Linked DNA regions of Homo sapiens. The protein of the gene in region 2 interacts with the protein of the main gene of each other region in a pairwise test. Each region holds a gene or a part of one and is shown on either strand. Other genes may lie near its edges.

Region 1 (7,027 bases), on a different chromosome or scaffold from region 2:
ATCACTTTACATTCCCACAAAGGTTCCAATTTCTCCACATCCTTAATAACACTTATTATTGTCTTCTTGATTCTAGTCATGCCAGCGGGTGTGAAATGGCACCTTGTTGTGGTTTTGATTTGTATTTTCCTAATGACTAATGACGCTGAACATCTTTTCGTATGCACTTATTGGCCGTTTGTGTATCTTCTTTGGAGAAATGTCTATTCAACTACATCGTTATTTTAAAATTGAATTATTAGCCTTTATTAAGTTACAGTAGTTCTTTATAGATTCTGGATATTATACGCCTATGAGATATGTGATTTGCTAACATTTTCTCATTCTGGAAGCTGTCTTTTCACTTTTTTTTTTCTTTTGGTAGAGACAGGGTCTCACTATGTTGTCCAGGCTGGTCTTGAACTCATGCCCTCAAGCAGTTCTCCTGCCTTGGCCTCCCAAAGTTCTGGGATTATAGGCATGAGCCACCATCCCCGGCTCACTTTCTTGACAGTGTCCTTTCAGCCTAACAGTTTTTAACTTTGGAGAAGTCCAGTTTATCTATATTTTTTTTTACTTTAGTTTTTTGCATTTTTGGTGTCATGTCTAAAAAACCACTGCCAGATCCAGTCATGAAATTTTAAATCTGTATTTTCTTCTAAGAGTTTTACAGTTTTAGGTATCATATTTAGGTCTTTGATCCATTTTTAATTTTTATAAAGTGTATGGAGATTCCATGAACTCTTTAAAACCCCATTAATTCCTTTTTTTTTTTTTTTTTTTGAGACGGAGTCTTCCTCTGTCGCCCAGGCTGGAGTGCAGTGGCGCGACCGCAACTCAGTGCAACCTCCACCTCCCGGGTTCAAGCCATTCTCCTGCCTCAGCCTCCTGAGCAGCTGGGATTACAGGTGCCCACCACGCCTGGCCCTAGAAGCCTGATTTTTAAGATTTTAAAACAGGCTGGGTGCAGTGGCTCATGCCTATAATCCCAGCACTTTGTGAGGCTGAGGTGGGCAGATCACTTGAGGTCAGAAGTTCGAGACCAGCTTGACCAACATGGCAAAACCCTGTCTCTACTAAAAATACAAAAATTAGCTGGGCATGGTGGCACATGCCTGTAATCCCACCTACTCAGGAGGCTGAGACAGGAGAATCGCTTGAACCCAGGAGGCGGAGGCTGCCATGAGGCGAGATCGAACCACTGAACTTCAGCCTGGGTGACAAGAAGAAGATTCCATCAAAAAATAAATAAATAAATAAATAAATTTTCAGACAAAGCAAGACAGGGAGTCCTTTTATCCAACTCAGTTTGGTAAAATAAGGTGCAATTCCTTCTAAATATTTTGACTTATTACCTCTAAAAAGAACACTAAAAACTGGTTTTGTTTCATGTATAAAATGATAAAATTATCTCCAATCTTTGTGGGATTCCATACAAGGCATGGATGCCACAGAACACAGCTTTTATAGTAGTGATGCAGGAAAAAAATAAATTCAAAACACAGTGGTAATTTGTACATATAAAGTCCTCAACATCATTTCTCTCTCATAGACACACAGTGAAATGGGGTTAAGACAACTGTCCTGAGTAGGGTCCATAAACAGACATTGCGCAGAAGAGTCAAATGTTATGGAAACCTACAAGCTGTAAATGAATATCCCTGTTACATTTGGCATGCTAGTTTTGACAGCCAAATCATGCTAGTTGTGATAGTTAAATTTTAGGAAATTCCAAATACTGTGGCACATACTAGGGTACTCACAGGAGAGAGTTTCTGGATAAGGTCATGGGCAACATGGACCAGGTTCTTGTCTTCATGGAGACATTTCTGAAACTTTTTGCTCTCCTCATCTTCTAAAAGATCAAAATCAATGGCAGCATCCAGTAAGGCCTGAATTAACCCCTTCCAGGATTTGAGGGCTGGAACTTGGGGCGCAACTGCAGCACTAATGCCTGTTCCAATCACTAGCACAAGTTCTCGAGGCTTCTTAGTTTTTAAGCTTGGAAGCAGCTTCCTATAAAAGCAAAACAAATGAGAGGATTGGAATATCCAATAGATATGAGGCACACAGAAAGACTGTCTGACTCAGGTTACAGTTTTTAGCTAACTTTTATAGTTGCAAAGAAGATGAACAGCAGTTTTTGACACCTTTCCAAAGCAGTTTAAAGAAAACAACCAGAATATTGTGTCAGTGCTTGCTGAAAAACAAGTCATAAACCTATTTCAGGAATCCCAAAACCAATCTTAAAATCAGTTTTCCCTTCCTAGTCCTCTCAACCTAAGAAATTCCACTAATATTAGGAAAAGATCCAAATAGACTATAGCTCAGCTGACTTCTGCCAACTAAATTATATTTTAAACCAGTATTAAATTTCAAAAGAAGACGTTTGATTTGTACTCTAGAAAAAGAGAAAAGAACCCCAGGACAAATTAAGTTCCTATTATTGAGAAATGTAAAACACTAGGGGAAAGGCAATACAAAATTTAATTCTGAATTTTGTAAACATTAACCTCAGGCAAAAAAAAAAAAGAAAAAAAAAGTGGCCAATAGAATTCTGAAAACACAGGGGCCCTACATACCTAAATAAAGACATTAACTAATCAAAGGACATGACAAAAAGTGAAAAACATTCCTTTCTTACCATGATAAGCAGAGACAGACTTCTCTGTTCTGAGGCCCATATGTGAGACAGCATGGGTGCTAATTTTTGTTTTTGTTCCCCTCTCTTTCATTCTGGAGACTATCCCTGCTTGAAATATGTTCCTTCACATTAATTTTTGCTGATGGCATGTTCCCCTCCCCTGAAAATGGCTTCTCCCCAACCTTTTTGTCTAAATAATAAAATGGAGAGGATCAGCATTTTGGCATAACTCAAGAAAGGAATAGCACTTTCAAGCCTTGGGAAACCTGGTTTTGGGGACACAGCCTCTAAAACTGCTTTCCCTAACCCGAGCTTCTGCATTCAGTCATTCAACAAATATGAAAAACCGAGGCCAGGAGCAGTGGCTCACGCCTGTAATCCCAGCACTTTGGGGGGCCAAGGTGGGCTGATTACTTGAGGTCAGGAGTTCAAGACCAGCCTGGCCAACATGGTGAAACTCTGTGTCTACTAAAAATACAAAAATTAGCTGGGTCTGGTGGCGCACACCTGTAGTCCCAGCTACTAGGGAGGCTGAGGCAGGAAAGGAAAACCTGTATGTACCAGACACTACGGGAGTCATGTATCCATGAACAAAATGGAGTCCCTGATCTTGAAAGATCAGTCTACTAGAAAAGACATTAATAATAGATGTTAGAAGCAAATGATGAAAAATGAGTTTCAGTTCAGAGCAATCAAGATAGTGAAGCATACACAAATCCACATAAACAAATATACACACACATAGAAAATTTCTAGGATTCACAAGATGTATAAATAGTGGTTAAATGGGGATAGCAGAGAATAAGGACTTTTTACTTTTCATTTTATACTGTTGTACTGTATTTTTTTATATAACATACAGATTTGAACTATAATTCTTCCTAATTAAGACTTCCAATTTGGCTAAGTGCAGTGGTTCATGCCTGTAATCTCAGCACTTTAGGAGGCTGAGCTTGAGCCCAGGAGTTTGAGACAAGCCTAGGCAACTTAGTGAGACCCCATCTCTGCCAAACAAAGAAAGAACGAAAAAGAAAATTAGGCACGTCTGTAGTCCCAGCTACCTGGGAGGCTAAGTTCACGGGAGGATCACGTGAGCCCAGGAGGCTGAGGTTGCAGTGAGCTGTGTTTGTGCCACTGCACTCCAGCCTGGGTGACAGAACAAGACCTTGTCTCGAAAAAAAAAAAAAAAAAGACTTCCACTTAAAAATAAAACATTTAACAATTGTGTTTTATTACTGGTTCTTTGTAAACCACCAAATAATAGTTACTTTTTTTTTTTAGCGGGTATATATACCTAAAAAGTAGGCTAGGTAAAGATGACAGCAGACAACAGAGGTCAAAGGGCAACAACATTTTACCAATTGTAATGCAAAGGCCGATTCCCTTGGTAGAATTTTGGGAATGTTCATGTACATCTAAAGGTAGAGGGGCTGGTGGGGCTAAAATAGGAGAATCAGTTACAAGCCTTTAACAGTTACAACTTTCAGCAGGCTAGAGGTTTCCCTTCTGCAGAGGTTGACCAGAGGACTATATCTGAGAACACTGCACACAGCTGAGGGTGGGGATTAAGTAAAAGTCTGTATATAAAATACAAGATTTCCCCCAACTCTCTTTCCCCAGAGGAAGCTTTTCAGACTCTAGGAATCAACTCTGTACCTGCACCCCTATCCCCCATCCAGTTAGGAAATGAGGACGATTCCTCTTTCAGGAAAATGGCCAGTATGAGATGAAAAACCTGCAGATTCTGACAGGTGGGAATTCCTTAACTCTACATAGAGTCTGGGACCAAGCCCCTTATGTACACACAGATTCTCCAACTGGCTTTTTTTTTTGAGATGGAATCTCGTAATCTTGGCTCACTGCAACCTCTGCCTCCTGGGTTCAAGTGATTCTCTTGCTTCAGCCTCCCGAGTAGCTGGGATTACAGGCACGTGCCACCACACCCAGCCAATTTTTGTATTTTTAGTAGAGACGGGGTTTCACCAGGTTGGCCAGGCTGGTCTCAAACTCCTGACCTCAAGTGATCCGCCTGCCTTGGCCTCCCAAAGTGCTGGGATTACAGGCGTGAGCCACCGCACCCGGCCTCTTCCATTGGCTTTTTGGTGTTTTCTGTTAAAAATGGGCAGACAAACAAGGGTCACCTCACATCTGAGGAAAGCCCCCAACATAACAGTTATACCAAACAAACTAGCAGGTAGAGAGAAATCTGAAGGAAATAAGAGATAGTATGGGAAGGAGAAAAAAAAATTAAAAGAAAACAATGATATCCTCACATATATTTTTTCTTTTCTTTTTTTTTTTTTTTTTGGAGACGGAGTCTAGCTTTGTTGCCAGGCTGGAGTGCAGTGACACAATCTCAGCTCACTGCAACCTCCGCCTCCCAGGTTCAAGTGATTCTCCTGCCTCAGCCTCCCGAGTAGCTGGGATTACAGGCACGCGCCACCACGCCCCGCTAATTTTTTTTTTTTTTTTTTTTTTTTTTTAGTAGAGACAGGGTTTCACTATGTTACCCAGGTACCCAGGATGGTCTCGATCTCCTGACCTCACGATCTGCCCACCTCAGCCTCCCAAAGTGCTGGGATGACAGGCGTGAGCCACCGAGCCTGGCCTAGATTTTTTTAAAATTGGCCAGGTGGGGTGGCTCACGCCTGTCATCCCAGCACTTTGGGAGGCCAAGGCAGGTGGATCACTTGAGGTCAGGAGTTTGAGATCAGCCTGGTCAACATGGTGAAAACCTGTCTTTATTTAAAAAATAAATAAATAAATAAAATAAAAATTAGCCAGGTGTGGTAGAGCACGTTTGTAATCCCAGCTACTCAGGAGGCTGAGGCAGGAGAATTGCTTGAACCCGGGAGGCAGAGGTTGCAGTGAGCTGAGATTGCACCATTGCACTCCAGCCTGGGCAACAGAGCGAGACTCCATCTCAAAAAAAAAAAAAAAAAAAAAAAGGCCAGGCGCGGTGGCTCACGTCTGTAATCCCTGCACTTTAGGAGGCTGAGGCAGGTGGATCATGAGGTCAGGAGATTAAGGCCATCCTGGCTAACACAGTGAAATCCCGTCTCTACTAAAAATACAAAAAATTAGCCGGGCATGGTGGCGGGCGCCTGTAGTCCCAGCTACTCGGGAGGCTGAGGCAGGAGAATGGTGTGAACCCGGGAGGCAGAGCTTGCAATGAGCCGAGATAGTGTCACTGCACTCCAGCCTGGGAGACAGTGAGACTCTGTCTAAAAAAAAAAAAAAAAAAAAGCATCTGTGAAACATAAACAGAGTGCTATGAAAAAATGAACAAACAAAAAGACTTCATAAATCAAAAATAACGCAACAGAAATTTTTAAATCCACAAGATAAAACAGAGAACCCCCGAGAAAGCTAAATTTAAGAAAACGAAATGGGGGGGAAAAAAATAAAGCAACACATAAAAAATTAGAGACTTAATACAAGAAGTCCAACATCTGAATAACAAGAGTTTTAAAAAAATGTGGAATAGAAAAAACATTGTAATGGAAAGTATCAAAAAAGTAATATAAGTCAACTTCTCCAAAGTGAAGGTACTAGTTGCCAGCTTTAAAGAGCTGCCCGGTGTCTAGATTCATATGACAAGATACATCACTGTGAAATTTCAGGTTACTGAGAATAAAATAATGATCCTTATAAGCTTCTAATGAACAACAACAACAACAAAAATGAAACAAAACAAAACAAAAAACAGGGAAAGAGGTCATACAATACAAAGGATTGGGAATCAGAACAGAGTGGCTATTTTGGCAGGAATACTTAGATGTTAGCAGAGTATGAATGAGAGATACTAAAAATTCTATACTCAGTCAAACCATCAAATGAATGTAAGTGTATGATAAAGACCTTTTCAAATATGTCCAAATAATTTTCTCCTATGGGTCCTTACTTAGGAGGCTATGCAAGGACATGCTTCAGGAAAACAAAGGCGTGCACCAAAAAAGAGGACATGAGATCCAGCAAACAGAGAATCGATACAGGAGAGATGTAAAGGAAATTATCAGGATGATGGGAATGGGAAATAGCAAATATCAGGAACGCAACAGGACTGGAGAACAAGTGTCCAGAGTGGACTAGCATCCAGAAGGAAGAATCCATGACACAAACCAGCAAGTTATCGGTGTGTTTCAGTATAGCTAGGAGATTTATTCTTCTGTCAGAGCATGTGAGAATACATTGAAAGCAAACAAACAAACAAAAAAGACAGTCTTTAATGACATAAGCAAAAAAAATGGGCAAGAAAGGAAACATAATCGTTACGCATTAGGCTCAGCTATGAATACTACTTATACAGTCGTAATAATGTAAATATTAAAAGTGGATTGAACCAGGCCGGGCACAGTGGCTCACGCCTATAATCCCAGCACTTTGGGAGGCCGAGGCGGGTGG
Region 2 (7,027 bases):
TGTACATATGGATAACATAATATTTGACATACATTGCTGCAGATTGTTTCTAGAGAACATTTTTTCTACAATTTGGTAGGCATTTAACAGTCTTTTGCCTCGTGTCCAAACAGAGGCTTAGGAATAAATGGCCTTGGTTGACAGAGAGCTCTGTTCCAATAAGGCATTAAACCTTAGCTCCAAGTTTTCAAACCTGACTCATCAGCAGTCACCTGAGGAGTTGCGCCTCCCCCCACCCCCTTTTAAAATAGAGATTTCCAGTATTTATCAGCAGGTCTTTCTTTTTTTGTCCAGCAAAACCCTCCCTTCTTCTCCCCTGTGTTTTTGTCTCCCTAGGTGCATGAGGCAACATGTTTCAGACCCACTCTTTTGACTTGTAGAATCTAGCCACTGTTATTGTATATGAAACATACGCTCATTTTGATGACTAGCCCCGGAAACACATTTTATTCCTCTTTAGCAGAATATTGAAATACACTACAAAGTAAGACTATATAAACTTCTGTCTGATCACTATGTAATTTGCTCCATTATATTCCATTTTAAATAACTCCATTGTGGATTTGGAGAAGCTTGCATATTTAGAGATTTGACATGTTTTATTTGTTGAAATTGTAATTTTTCTCACAGAATAGTCCTATGACAGCATTTTATTAAACAATAGTGGGTTTATGTCCATCACACCAATATACAAAGATTCAACTTAAGCCATAAATGAAAGGAATAGTTATCTAATTAAAAACTGCTGTTACTAAACCAGAGGCAAAAAAAAATTAGATAACATTTATGTAAGACTTACTGTCCTACTTGAATATGTAATGTTTCAATGTTTCAGCCCAATACCAGTGTTTGACCTGAGAGAGGTAATAAGTAAAATATTATTGAAATAATCAATGAAAATGGAATTACTACTTCAGAGTACTCTAAAATACTTTTTTAAAAAATATCAAAATTCTGTATGCTTTTAATTCTTAAAATTTCTACAAGCTTATTTACTGAAAAATATGCTGGGAAACACCCACATGCACACAGAAACCTGGACACTGAGGTTTTTTTCCCCTTGAAATAGGAATGTTGAAATGTTTTAGATAGGAAATAACTGAAATCTGGCATTTGTAATTAGTATTAGTAATAAAATGTTATGTTTAGGATGGTGCAGATTTCCATCTTATTCATTTCTTCACAGTTGCATTGCATTTGAAGTTTTTGTTGTGACTAACAGCTAAGAGAATGACTGTGAAAAAGAAGGTTTGTCGCAGAGAATGTGAGACTATTTGAGAATGCAGAATTACATCAAGTTCAATTTGGCGGAAAAAAATTGCTATGAGGTTAAAATGTGGAAATCAAAAGGGGCTAGTTAGAAAGGCAAAAAAAAGTTCAGAAAAAATGGTGCATGGATAGGAAGAACAGTCAACTCAAATGAGAATTATTCATTTCTTCTTTTTTTTCTTTAGAAAGGGGAGGGAGGTGATGATGCATATATAGTCAAAGGATGATTGCTGGGAAGGTTAAAGTGCAAGAATATTGTGATGTTGTCTCCTCTAGTAATTTAAATATTTTCCAAAGGGAATAGTGACTGATAGTAAGTGTTTGAAAGAGGAGGATATTTGGCTGCTAGATAGAAGCTAAAAGTGTCTGTAAAAGAGTAAGGGAGGAAGAATATTTCCTCAGGGGAGAGGAATATTTTCTGAGGAGGAAATATTTTATGTTAAACATCAAAACTAATAGGTATCTAGCATACAGCATTGTTAAATACAGAATTGAGTTATATGTAATGCAGAATATTATAAAATTGTTCCTTGTTCAAATAACAAAAGTAGAGAACATGGTAGCTTGAATTTAGCTACATTAGCCAGAGCAAAGAAAAATTTTAAAATGGGAAAAGACAGGCATAGGTAATGTTTATCTTTTTATAAATTTGAGTAAGGAACGCTTAATGAAATGTGATTGATTTGAGAAAGTTGGTCTTGGTTGGCAACCTTTGGTCAGCAGTGCAAGAGAATCAGGATTACAGAGGGGTATAGGCTAAAATCCCCACTCCAACCAGCTAGCCGAAAAGGCTGGCTGTTCTTGAAGTGATTGCGCTTAACATAATTAAGAGTGTACTGTGATTAGATTAAGAGTGTACTTAATTTCTTTCAAATGTAGCTGATGTTCTTTTCTCTCACAAATTTCTTTCAAATGTAGCTGATATTCTTTATTCTTTTCCCAACAGGGATATAGCTAGTGCAATAAAAGAACTTCTTGATACAGTGAATAATGTCTTCAAGAAATATCAATACCAGAACCGCAGGGTACGTTTAGTAGAAGCCTTGCTAGTTGACACCCTAGATGTTGGTTTATGCCTAGTTGTTTTATTGACTTAAAAATAAGATTGATTGTTGGAAATAGTTTTGTGTCATTAACCATTGAGTTTATTCTTGAATTTAAATATGCCTTTTTATTTAAAAGTGAGTACTCCACAATTGCTTATTAGTAATATTCATATAAAGTGCATCCCATATCCTGTGTAATCTCTTGTCCTTGCCTTTGGCTTTTGTGATTATTTCTCTTATTTAGTACTTTATTTCTTATTATATTTTGTGACTGTAGGCACTTGAACACCAAAAGAAAGAATTTGTAAAGTACTCCAAAAGTTTCAGTGATACTCTGAAAACGTATTTTAAAGATGGCAAGTAAGTACTGTAATTTATCCTTTACTTTTAAAATTAAATAGATTATGTGGTTTTATATGATATGAAAACCACATAAATTAAGCCCTTTTATTTTATTATTAGTACTCCAGGCAACTGATAATGAAGGCAGACCATTAACAATAGAAAATGAATGGTTGCTAATCTAGCCATAACTCCTTTCTAGAACAGGAGTTATCAGACGCTTTCTGAAAAGAGCCAGGTAGTAAATATGTTAGATTTGGTGGGCCTGTTGCCGTTATCCACCCATCTCTGCTGTTGTAGTACAGAAACAAGCCATAGACAATGTACAAACAAGGGGGTGTGACTGTGTTTTAATAAAACTTTATACAAAATTCAAATTTCAGTATCTTGAAATAATTTTTACCTGTCATATAATATTCTTCTTTTGTTTTTTAACCATTTAAAAATGTAAAAGCAATTTTAGTTCATTGGCCTACTTTATACACTCCTGAAACAGTGGTTCTCAAACTTTAGTGGCATCAGAGTCATCTGGAGGACTTGTTACAGTCAAATTGCAAATTGCTCGAGGGTCCCACTTCTAGAATTTCTGATTTCGTAGGTCTAGGATGGAGCCTAAGAATTTGCATTTCTTAGAAATTTTCAGGTGATACATTACAGGTCTATTGAGAACTACTGCACTAAAGTTAAAGCAATAGTTGTCAATCCTTTCTGTGCATTAGAGTCACTTGAGGACAGTTTTTAAAAAATTCCCACTGCCTAGGCCCCACCTGCAGAGATTCTGATTCAGTTGGCTGGGAGTGGAGTCAGGGTTTAGATATTTTGTAAAAGTGCCCCAGATGTTTTTAAAGTGCTGTAAGGGTTTTGACCCACTCTCCTGGAAAGAGGCTTTCACAGCATCATTCTATAAAATAGGAAATATACTAAAATGTAAATTGGACATTATTTTTTAATTTATATATAATTGGTTGTGATGCACTATAGAAAACCAAGAGATTTTATATATTTTAACATACATACATGCATACGTATAATGTATAAACTGATGGAAAGTCTGGCCGTATAGGTAGTTATTTGCACTTCAAGTCAAATGTGAGAATTTTTTGAACAAGATTATTTTTTAACAGTGCTTAAAGTCAGAAAAGTAAATAGAGACCTCAATCATTCCATCCTGCTATTCAGGTTTTAAGATCTCTATATTCATGTCACATCATTACAGTATTATTGTAGTAATATTTAAAAATGATAAAAATACATTAGATAGAATTATGTTAATTTTCAGAGTCATTTTTAACAGTTCAAACAGGTTGAAGTATTTACATTTATATTATGAATTAGAGATATCGAGCTAAATTTTATTACTTGTTTTGTGGTGGTGTTCCATACACAGGTTTGTCTAAGGGAAATGCTCCTTGATGACTTAGTTTAATAAGCTGGCATTTGTGTTTTGAAAATAAACTTTTATTTGATTTATGCTAAGCTCAAATAACCAAAAACACATTAAAATAATAATTTACATGATGGGATTATTATTTCTGATTTTAAATTACTATTATGGAATAAGCACAATGAAAGGTAGACATTAATTTAGAGACTAATTTTCATTAATTAATTGAAATTATTTACTCTGCATATGGATTCAGTGTCGTTGCTACTACTTTCTCTCCATTCAGCAGCTTTTTAAAATTCCAGTTCTTTGTGTATCAATAATGTGCTTGAGTTTTATACCTGTTTCCTCAAAACAGAAAATTATTGATAGAACCTGATCTTTAGGCCATCTTTCAGTAGGGGGATGGATTTGCATTGATTCAGCTATTTCTTCCTGGCCCTTCTCTTTTTTTTTTTTTTTTTTTTTTTTGGAGACAGAGTCTTGCTATGTTGCCCAGGCTGGATCTGGGCTCACTGCGACCTCCAGCTCCTGGGTTCAAGCAATTCTCCTGCCTCAGCCTCCCGAGCTGGGATTATAGACACATGCCACCATGCCCGGCTAATTTTTGTATTTTTAGTAGAGACAAGGTTTCACCATGTTGGCCAGGCTGGTCTCACACTCCAAGAGACCTCATGATCCGCCCACCTTGGCCTCCCAAAGTGCTGGGATTACAGGTGCGAGCCACCAGGTCCAGTCCCTGGGCCTTCTCTTTTGAGAAATGTCTAGGATGCGGGTGCATGCTAGATATGATACTAGGAAACTGTTGAGGCCACACAGTGGGACTAGGGCATCATCTCTGAATCCCAGCTGCATGAAGATGAGCCATTAGGAGAATGTGGTGGGGCTCAAAGCCAGTTTTAAAGAATATATTTTTATATGTTGTCAGCTCCCAGATTTTGAAACTGCATGATTATTTTGTTTTAAAAGTATGTTTATAGTAAAAGTAGTTTGTAGTAGTTTGTAGCTTAGAATTTCTACCTTTTTTTAAGGAGATAAAGAGATTGGGATGAATCAGATTGGAAGTAATTAGATTTTTCTTGAGTATTATGCCCATTAATTACAAATTTTGAGATTATGATACTTTGCTGGATTTTACTTGTTAACTTCTATGAAACCACAGCTGGAGACCACATCTGAATCCTCCTTTTGGCCAGTTAACTTGTTCCACCTATAAATGAACTGGGTTGTTGAGGCACTATCATTAGCAGTCCTCCAACATTTTATTACCAGTCAGAACCACCAGGGGGCAGTAATTACTAGATAGTTTAAAATGATGCAAGACTATTATATCCTAAATTGGAATAAAAGTTTTAATAATACTAACTTGTCTTTTTTTTTTTTCTAAAATTGATTCCATTGCTACTGTTAATAGTATAAATCTTAAAAGGGTGAATTTTTTGGATGAAATTAATGCTTATTCTTTTCTTTTTAAACAGGGCAATAAATGTGTTCGTAAGTGCCAACCGACTAATTCATCAAACCAACTTAATACTTCAGACCTTCAAAACTGTGGCCTGAAAGTTGTATATGTTAAGAGATGTACTTCTCAGTGGCAGTATTGAACTGCCTTTATCTGTAAATTTTAAAGTTTGACTGTATAAATTATCAGTCCCTCCTGAAGGGATCTAATCCAGGATGTTGAATGGGATTATTGCCATCTTACACCATATTTTTGTAAAATGTAGCTTAATCATAATCTCACACTGAAGATTTTGCATCACTTTTGCTATTATCATTCTTTTAAGAATTATAAGCCAAAAGAATTTACGCCTTAATGTGTCATTATATAACATTCCTTAAAAGAATTGTAAATATTGGTGTTTGTTTCTGACATTTTAACTTGAAAGCGATATGCTGCAAGATAATGTATTTAACAATATTTGGTGGCAAATATTCAATAAATAGTTTACATCTGTTAAACATTTCTTTACTTGAAAAAATGCATATATATATGTGTGTATATATATATATATATATATATATATGAACAGAAGACCAAGACAACTTGGTGTAATGTCTAAAAAACTTCTAATGGGAGCTTATCAGCAGTTTATCAAATAATAAAGCAAGAATTTCTATTTTTGTCCTTAATCACTTTGGACACAGAGTAGTCAATGGAAATATTTTTGTTAATTACTTATAAGGTACTGAGTATTTTTATATGATTTCCAACCTGTTTTAAACGACTTATGAGTAAGAGATAGCATTTTCTAGTGTTTTTGCACTATAATGCCACTTTTTGAACTCTTGTGACAAATGTAGATTTGACTCTTAAAAATTAAGCCTTTCGTATACTGGGCCCTCATAAGCTTTGCACAATTTTTTCCCAAAAAATAGCCACAATTAATAGTAATTTGAAGCTATATCAACGGTTGGATTGAAATTGTCATGAGTGTTAATATTATATACACTCTTCAACTAGGTACAGTTTTATTTCACCATAGAGAAGTTTTAAGGAAATTATGTATCAAGTGTTCATGTTAAGTGGTTTCATTTTTCAATTATAAAATAAAGGGAAAAAATCAGAATTTGCTTATCTTTTATAAAGATTTTAGACGTTAAACTAAGTTTCTGTTGACAGTATATTTTTTTGCTGTTATGCAACTCAAGTTATTTTATTTTTTCTCCATTTTAAAAAACAGATTTTTAAAGAATTATCATTGGCACCATAAAAGTAGAACATCCTGTTAAATGTAAATGAAAATATGTTGAAAGGAGCAAAAAAAAATAGGCAATTAGATGAAAATTGGATGAAATCTCTTAATTAATGAACATTTTACTGACCTGATTTTTTTTTTTCTTCAAAGATATGTAGCCAGTAAGACAAATAGAATGCTGATCTTTATTTATTTTTGGCATAAACTATCATTCACTCTTGGAGGTAGATGGGTGATCATTTGCCGAATAGACTTGTGGATATATGAAGAAAAAAGACACTGTTTTA
Region 3 (7,059 bases), on a different chromosome or scaffold from region 2:
CAGTTAAAATCTTAAATACCAGTGCTTCTTTAACTATCTTTCGAATCAGTTCACTTCTCTCTCTCCTCTAATTTAAATTTTTGCCGCAGCTGCCTTTGGTCTTGGTTGTATCTTTCCTGTTTCATTCTCATTGCAGCCTGCATGAACTCTCTAAAATAGAGATCTGCTGTGCTTAAGATCCTTCAATGGTTTCTCCCAAGATATTGGGATCTCTGAAGACAAGGACTGTGTCCCCAGAAACTCATCGACTCTCTGGTGTCTCTGGGTCTACGCACATGATGTCTCCAAGGCCAGGTCAGGGTTTTATTAAATTTTGTAGAACCACTTGTACACTGAACAGAACAGAGTTCAGCACTTCTGATAAAGTTTGAGTGAGATACAATATTCCTTTTGTCATTTGTTAATATTCATTGCAGCTCTGGAACATCTTTTCTACAATGCCTGACAACACTGAGTCAGAGTTTTAATTTTCTGTTTCAGGACACGTATTCATTGGCTTGGTGTTTTACGTATGTTTTAGGAAAGGATTATTTGATAATCTACAGTCCTGAAGATTTTAACTAACCTCTGTGGGACTATGATATTCTCGGGTGAAAAGGGTACAAGTAGATGAGCGATTTCATTTTCAGTTTATTCTCTTAAATAGCAGTCAGAGTAAGAAAGGCTACAACTGGAGACACAGGATGGCTCAATGGTTAAGAGCAGGCACTCGAGAAAGACTACATCTGACCTGCACATAGGTGAAGACTCCAAGTCGGCTTCCCCTAGGATGACCCCTTTAACTCAACTCTTTTCTACACACCTACAAAGTCTCTCTGTAAGCATGTAATCTAATGACCAAAAAGAATGACCAAAAAGAAAATCTGCCTAATGACCAAGAAAGAAAAGCAGGACATAGGTACTAGTTACTATTTAACCAAGACTGTAAAAGATCCCAAGATTCAGGGTTACCAGAAAAATTGTGTAACTAGGGGAATGTGAAACACAGTCTAGGGAGAGGAAACCTAGCTACTGGAAGGCTGGTATTCAATTATTTGGAAACTGGCGTCTATTCCAAGAAGCACCGTGAATGGGCTTCCGGGCACCAAGAGCGGGCTGTTCTAGGAGGAAAGGGGCCGGCCCTACCTGTGCTCTGCCCTTGGGCTGCAAATGGATTCTGGCCGGAGCTTAGCCAGGTTGTATTTCCGGCTCAGAGAGGGTCTGGGTGGGACGTCAAGGGAATCATTCCATGTTTAGGATAATGGAACGTGTTGAGTTGGTATGCAAGGTTTTGTCTTCAATCCCAGATATCCAAAAAGCTCTTTGAAACACAGGAAAGATTGGCCCTATTTCTCTTTAGGTATCATTATTTATCTAAATCTCCGGAGCCATTGAGGACCAAGATCATACTTGCTGAATAAATGCACGGAGCAGGATCAGAGGATAGACACAGAATGGGCCAAGAAGAGAAGTAAGCCACACCTTCCCTTCCTGTCTCAGCATCTGTTCCATTTCTGCTCAGTGACCCAGGCAGCTTGCTGTTAGCTGACTCTTCACACTTTAGGGAAATACAAATAACTCCAGAACTTAACTTTACCTTTGAGCTTCAAATTGTTTCAATTATGTACCTTGTTTCAATTATCTGCCTCCTGACAGTGTTTCACAGCTGGGACCAGTAAGGTGGTCTATGATCTTTAACATCTGTCTTATCCTTCCTAAAATAGTATCAACTGAAGGATTAAATGGGGAAGGGGGAGGGGTAGGCAACAAATATAGACTCTATTATGTTTAAAAGCAGTAACCGCTTTCCATTTCTTTCTCATTCAACTCTCAAATGCTTCTCTTCTTTTCTCCAGATATTATTCCTCATAAGAGCTTGCTTGATTGCAACCACCAAGGACATCCACAAACCAGGGCAAGAAGGACCATCCGTAATTCTTTCCCATAAATAGTGACAGGAAGAAAATAAACGCCCTATTCTTCAATGATTTGAACCACCTCTGGAGCACAAACTTTCTCTAAATTCACAGGGCAAATATCCATCATGGGGCAGGTATCTATGCTGCCATGGAAAGTAACATAAAATGTACTAAGTCATCACAGGGAGTTTTAATTTTGTTTTTAAGGTCAATTGCCATGCTGGGGTAAAAAGCATTGATCCTTGCCTTTTATCACCGGAAAAATTCTTCACCAGTACTTTGTGAAAATCTCGCCTCATCAGGGCTGCCAAGGTCAATGCAACCTAAGTAACCAAGCTGGGAGATGCTTGCCTAATTATTAAATATTTAGCAAACAGTTTGTGACTATTTAACTGTTTGCACCTGGCACCCTCTTTTCACTACGTGAGGCCTCCTGGCACCCTGACCTCTTCCCCCACCCCTACCCACTGCCCAGGCCGCCAGCACCCCTGGGGGGCAAATACCGGGACCCAAGGGCATTTCAAAGAAACAGCAGAGGTCACATTCCATTTCCTTTTTATTAAAAAACATACTTAAAATGGGGGAGGAGGGCACAGATCTAAGGTAAAATCTCTTGCAGTTTTTTCAAGTTCGCATGCACCGTTGAAAGTTCATTAGTTAGGGATTTAAAAGCAAAAATGTTTCACACAACCAATTAAACGCCAAGCTTTACAAACGCCTTGGTCTTTGGTTTTGGGAATCTGTAAAAGTCCGCCTCCCCCCACCCGAGTTTTGCCCCTTTTAGAGCCCCTTTGTTGAATTACGTGACTTTTCCCGAAGTCATCAAACTTTGAATTGCGTCTCTAATTTTTTTTTTCAGGGCAAAAGCAAATCAAGAAATTAAACTTAAAAGTAGGCGACTCGGAGAGAAGTGGGGGAAAGCTCGCCCCAAAGCCAAGTTCCGCAGGACTAAAGCCCTCTTTGCGCGCGCGGGGCGGGGGATTGTCCCTACCTGGGGCCAGACGGCGGCGGCGGCGGCGGCGGCGGGGTCCCGGCGCCCATGGCTTCGCCGGCCTCGGGCAGCCGCGCCGGGAGACGCTAGCGGCTCCGCGCTGCCCTGAGCCCGCCGAGCTCGCAGCGGCCGCCCCAGCGCTGTCATTGGGCCCGCGCGTCACGTGGCCCGGGCTGCGGGTGAGCCTTCCCGACACGCGTAACCCTTTACCTGCACGCCCCGAGGATGCGGCGGGGCTAGGGCTCGAAACCCTGGAGTACGATGTCCGACATCCCCGGGGCCGGGGTGGCAGTCCCGGGCGCACTGAAGCAGAAAATCCACGCGCTTGTTGGCCTCTGAGCACAAACGACCGCGCCAACCGCCTGCCATCACGGGAAACTCCGGGGTGCTTACTCCAATGTTGCGCTGGAGAGAAGGGAGCTTCCTATGATCAAGGGACTGGAGTACGGGGATACACAAAACAAATGCACCCGCTGGCAAATAGTTGTGTACTCCCAAACCCCGAGAACTTGGCATTTTTCAGTTTCCTCCTTATTTCTGGCATTCGCCGCCTAGACCTGCTGTGAGTTCCATGGCCAGCCCTGTATGAGCTACATGGACCTAGAAACAGCGGGGGCGCCACCACCACGATAAAAACCAGGGAAGTTGCACACACTCGCCTGCACCCTAAAGGCCCCAGGGGGAGTTCAATGAACTCCTGGTTCCCCGTCCCCTCCTCACCCACTCCCCCTCCATCCCTTTCTTTTCCTGAGGTCTTAGGGCATTGGCCACAAGACTGCATCCAATCTACTGAGTTCCACATTCGTAGCTGTTACAATCCATATACCTAAGGCGGGTGGAGAACTGACTCTGCTTAAGGACTGGACATTCTTTTCACCTGTGCTCCAAAGCAAATGCTGAGCTTGCCAAAAAAAGTGTTAAGCAACTGCGCCACCTAGCTTACCCTCTTCTCTCTTCTTTTCAACTCATCCAGCAAGAGAATAAAATAGGATATTGGAGAGGCATCTGGACAGAGTATTATCTAAGGATGGACATAGTGTCCTTGGGTTTTCAATGTATCTACTTTAATGATGCCAGCCCCATTCACATGATATTTGCCAGGCTTTTGAGAATTTGAACACTCCATTTTTTGAATCCTTCTAATTTTGCAGTGCTGGGATTGCACGCTGTAAAGTGTTAGATTTTTGCAGGAAGTTATATGTGGTTTTACATCCTTTGTCACAATGAACGGCACTCATGTCCAACTTATAGTCGACACTTAATTGTCTACAGGATATTGATACATTTATCAAGTAGGTTATCTGTCGAAAAAGGGGTTGGTATTTGTATTGGGTTTCATTTTATTTATTTATTTATTATTATTTGAGACAGGGTCTGGCTGTTGCACACAGGCTGGAGTGTGATGCGATCTCAGCTTACTGCAACCTCCTCCTCTGGGGATCAAGGGATCCTCCCACCTCAGCCTCTGGAGTGCCTGGGGCTACAGGCTCATGCTACCATGCTCGGCTAATTTTTGTATTATTATTATTATTATTACTATTATTATTATTATTTTTGTGGAGACTAGGGTGGGGGTGGGCTCTCCTAAACTTGCCCAGGCTGGTCTTGAACTCCTGAGGTTAAGCAATCCGCTCGCCTCGGCCTCCCAAAGTGCTGGGATTGCAAGCTGAGCCACCGCGCGCCCCAGCCTGCCTTAGATTTTAAAGTGCAGTTCCTAGACTAATAGCATCGGCATAATCTGAGAGAATGTAGTAAAAATGCAAATTCTTGGGACCCACCCCAGACGTATTGATTCAGAAATAGTTGGGGAGGGAGGGTGAAGAAATCTGTGTTTTAGCAAGTGGTACCTACTCCAGTTTGCGAACCGTTGCTCTGAATATGCACAGGTAGCTGGCGAAGTTCCCCTCATCTATTAAATAGTAAGGGCTGGCATTCTATAAAGCTAGAGGTGCTGCTTTTATTTGTATCCCTAGATTACCAGTTTTATGTAATCTGTCATGTTGATACACTGAAACTGAACCCTCCATGTGTCCATACAACGTGTAATCTGTACTTCTTGCAGATCTCTTGGAATGCCAAATTGAGATCTGAGGGGCCCTTGTAAAACATATGGAAGAAAAACCTATGGTTTCTTGATGCACACCAGGGTGAAAACACCATGATTCACTTCATTTTTTAGGTGTGCCCATGTTTTCACTGACATGTAAATTGTTCCCAGCCAATGAGTCATGAAAGATAGGAAAGCTAATTTTTTTGAGTGGATTTATCAACATGGTTCCAAATTTGTGAAAGAGTTCTAAAAAACAAACAACATTAAAAACATTATGGTATCCGTTTATGTTATAGCCCAAAAAACTCCCCACACCATATTAGGCATTGCAGTAAGGGCTCCTTGCAATCCATTGCAATCTCCTTACTGAGAAAGAAAGAACTGAGTGGGTTTTTATTTGAGTTTTCTCCATGGGATAGATAGACTATTTCTAATGGGCTAGATGGATGTCTTACTTTTAAACTCTCTAGGTCCAAGTTTGTTTTGTGATTTTCCCCCACTTTCATCCCCTGTTCACTTTACATTTGTAATTCTATCTACTCAATTCCAATTGGAACTGGAATTATTTGAGTTTTCCCTCCCCTTCATCAAACACCTCTATCCATTAAGCCCTGAAATAAATCTTGAATTGCCCCTACTCTAAGCAGGTTCTAAGATCAGGTTCTAACACTTTCTAACTGAGATCATGGCCATGGTCTTTACTGGTCTCCCAGCTTCTGATCTTTTCCATCTGAAAGCCATCTGACAAAGTAACTGCCCTTCCCCAAAACTTTTTTTCCCAGCTCCCTGTTGAAACCAGCGCAATTTTCCAACAAGCCAAATGCCCATAGCACTGAAGCTTGAGAAACTTACACCTGCTGCCTGTTGACCAATTCCTCTTCCTTAACCCTCCCTAATTCCTGTTTTCCTATAGGAGGTTACAGTGAGATGCTAGACACCTGCTGCCTATTGAGCAACTCCTCTTCCTTGCCCTGCCTGTTTTCTCCCCCCATATAAACCCCAACTTTAGCCAGGGGAGATTCAGATTTGAGTCTTGTCTCCTGTCTCTGGCTGATATCACCCATAATAAAGCCTTCTTCCCTGACAATACTCATTGCCTTAGTGATTGGCTTTCTGTGTAGTGAGCAACAGGACCTAGGCTGGGCCCCTGGCTTTCAGTGACACTATTGACTACTGAATAAAGTCTAAAATCCCAACAGCATTTGAAGTCGCCTGAAATATGCTTCAATGCCCATTTTTGCTCATGCAGCTTCCTTTACCTGAAATGTCTCTCTGACATTGACAGCTAAGTCCTAATTATTCTTCTAGCCTCAGCTCTATCTCCTCTGGGTCAACCTTTTCGATATTCAGGTAGTGTTAATTGCTCCTCTGTAGTGTATCCTCAGCACCTGGCTCTCACTCTTACTAACTTTGAAATCAGTCTCATCTGGTTTAGCTGTGTCTCTTCTAGACTGTAGGGTTCTGGATGGCAGGAGTCATGCGTGACTTTTCAAATCATTCCAGGATCTAGCATAATGCCTTGGGCATAGCAAGCATACAGTGTTGACTGTTGTGTTCTTGGCTCTAGGAAAGAAGATATTTAAACAAACTCTATTTATTTGAAATGCTTTTTTGCAAATATTTATTAACTTCTCTACATTTTCTTTGAGAACTAAAAGGAGAGGGGTTTAGCCTTTTCAACCTAAAGATATTACCCTTTGTAAGTAATGGAATTGTTTTCAGTGGTGGTAAATTTTGAACACGTTAGTCTCAGCCATGTGATGCAGGCAATAAACCAGAATAATTTATTTTCGTAACACATTAAAGTTTCTCTGAGAACAATTATTTCATGACAACTAGATACTAGCTTTCAGATTATTTCCTATGTATCATCACTTAAGCTCACCAATACTCCTCTGTTTCTGTTTTTTAAAAATATTTTTTGGTGCGTGTGTGGATTCTCAGATCCAAGAGGCAAGAGATGGAAGAAAGGGCATGTGGGAAGGCTCCCCTTGGTCCTGCTCGTTCGCGCAAAGGGAATTTATGAGAGAGACAACTCCTCAGTCATCACCCTTCTTCTCCTTCCTCCCCATCCTTCTATTAATGAATTCATCAACTATTTCTGTATACCTGAAAAACGT

What was found. The genes of interacting proteins can lie anywhere in the genome.
Region 1: the proteins of PDCD10 (region 2) and FAM118B interact in binary tests that used the Homo sapiens proteins (3 or more experiments, as listed by UniProt).
Region 3: the proteins of PDCD10 (region 2) and PGCKA1 interact in binary tests that used the Homo sapiens proteins (3 or more experiments, as listed by UniProt).

Annotation. Positions count from the first base shown.
Region 1 is NC_000011.10:126,235,760-126,242,786, reverse strand, and holds part of FAM118B (protein FAM118B), read right to left. Parts: intron 6,858-7,027; exon of another isoform or gene 6,716-6,857; coding exon of another isoform or gene 6,532-6,715; intron 1,996-6,531; coding exon 1,743-1,995; intron 1-1,742. Other genes in the region: SRPRA (signal recognition particle receptor subunit alpha), read left to right, coding at 6,532-6,715. UniProt on the Homo sapiens protein: May play a role in Cajal bodies formation.
Region 2 is NC_000003.12:167,682,882-167,689,908, reverse strand, and holds the end of PDCD10 (programmed cell death protein 10), read left to right. Parts: intron 1-2,215; coding exon 2,216-2,294; intron 2,295-2,592; coding exon 2,593-2,675; intron 2,676-5,519; coding exon 5,520-5,601; 3' UTR 5,602-6,611; downstream 6,612-7,027. UniProt on the Homo sapiens protein: Promotes cell proliferation. Modulates apoptotic pathways. Increases mitogen-activated protein kinase activity and STK26 activity. Important for cell migration, and for normal structure and assembly of the Golgi complex.
Region 3 is NC_000004.12:37,449,871-37,456,929, reverse strand, and holds the start of PGCKA1 (PDCD10 and GCKIII kinases-associated protein 1), read right to left. Parts: upstream 3,006-7,059; 5' UTR 2,890-3,005; intron 2,614-2,889; exon of another isoform or gene 1,836-2,613; intron 1,451-1,835; exon of another isoform or gene 1-1,450. UniProt on the Homo sapiens protein: Acts as a tumor suppressor. Acts as a tumor suppressor for colorectal cancer cell proliferation by targeting KEAP1/USP17/ELK1/CDK6 axis.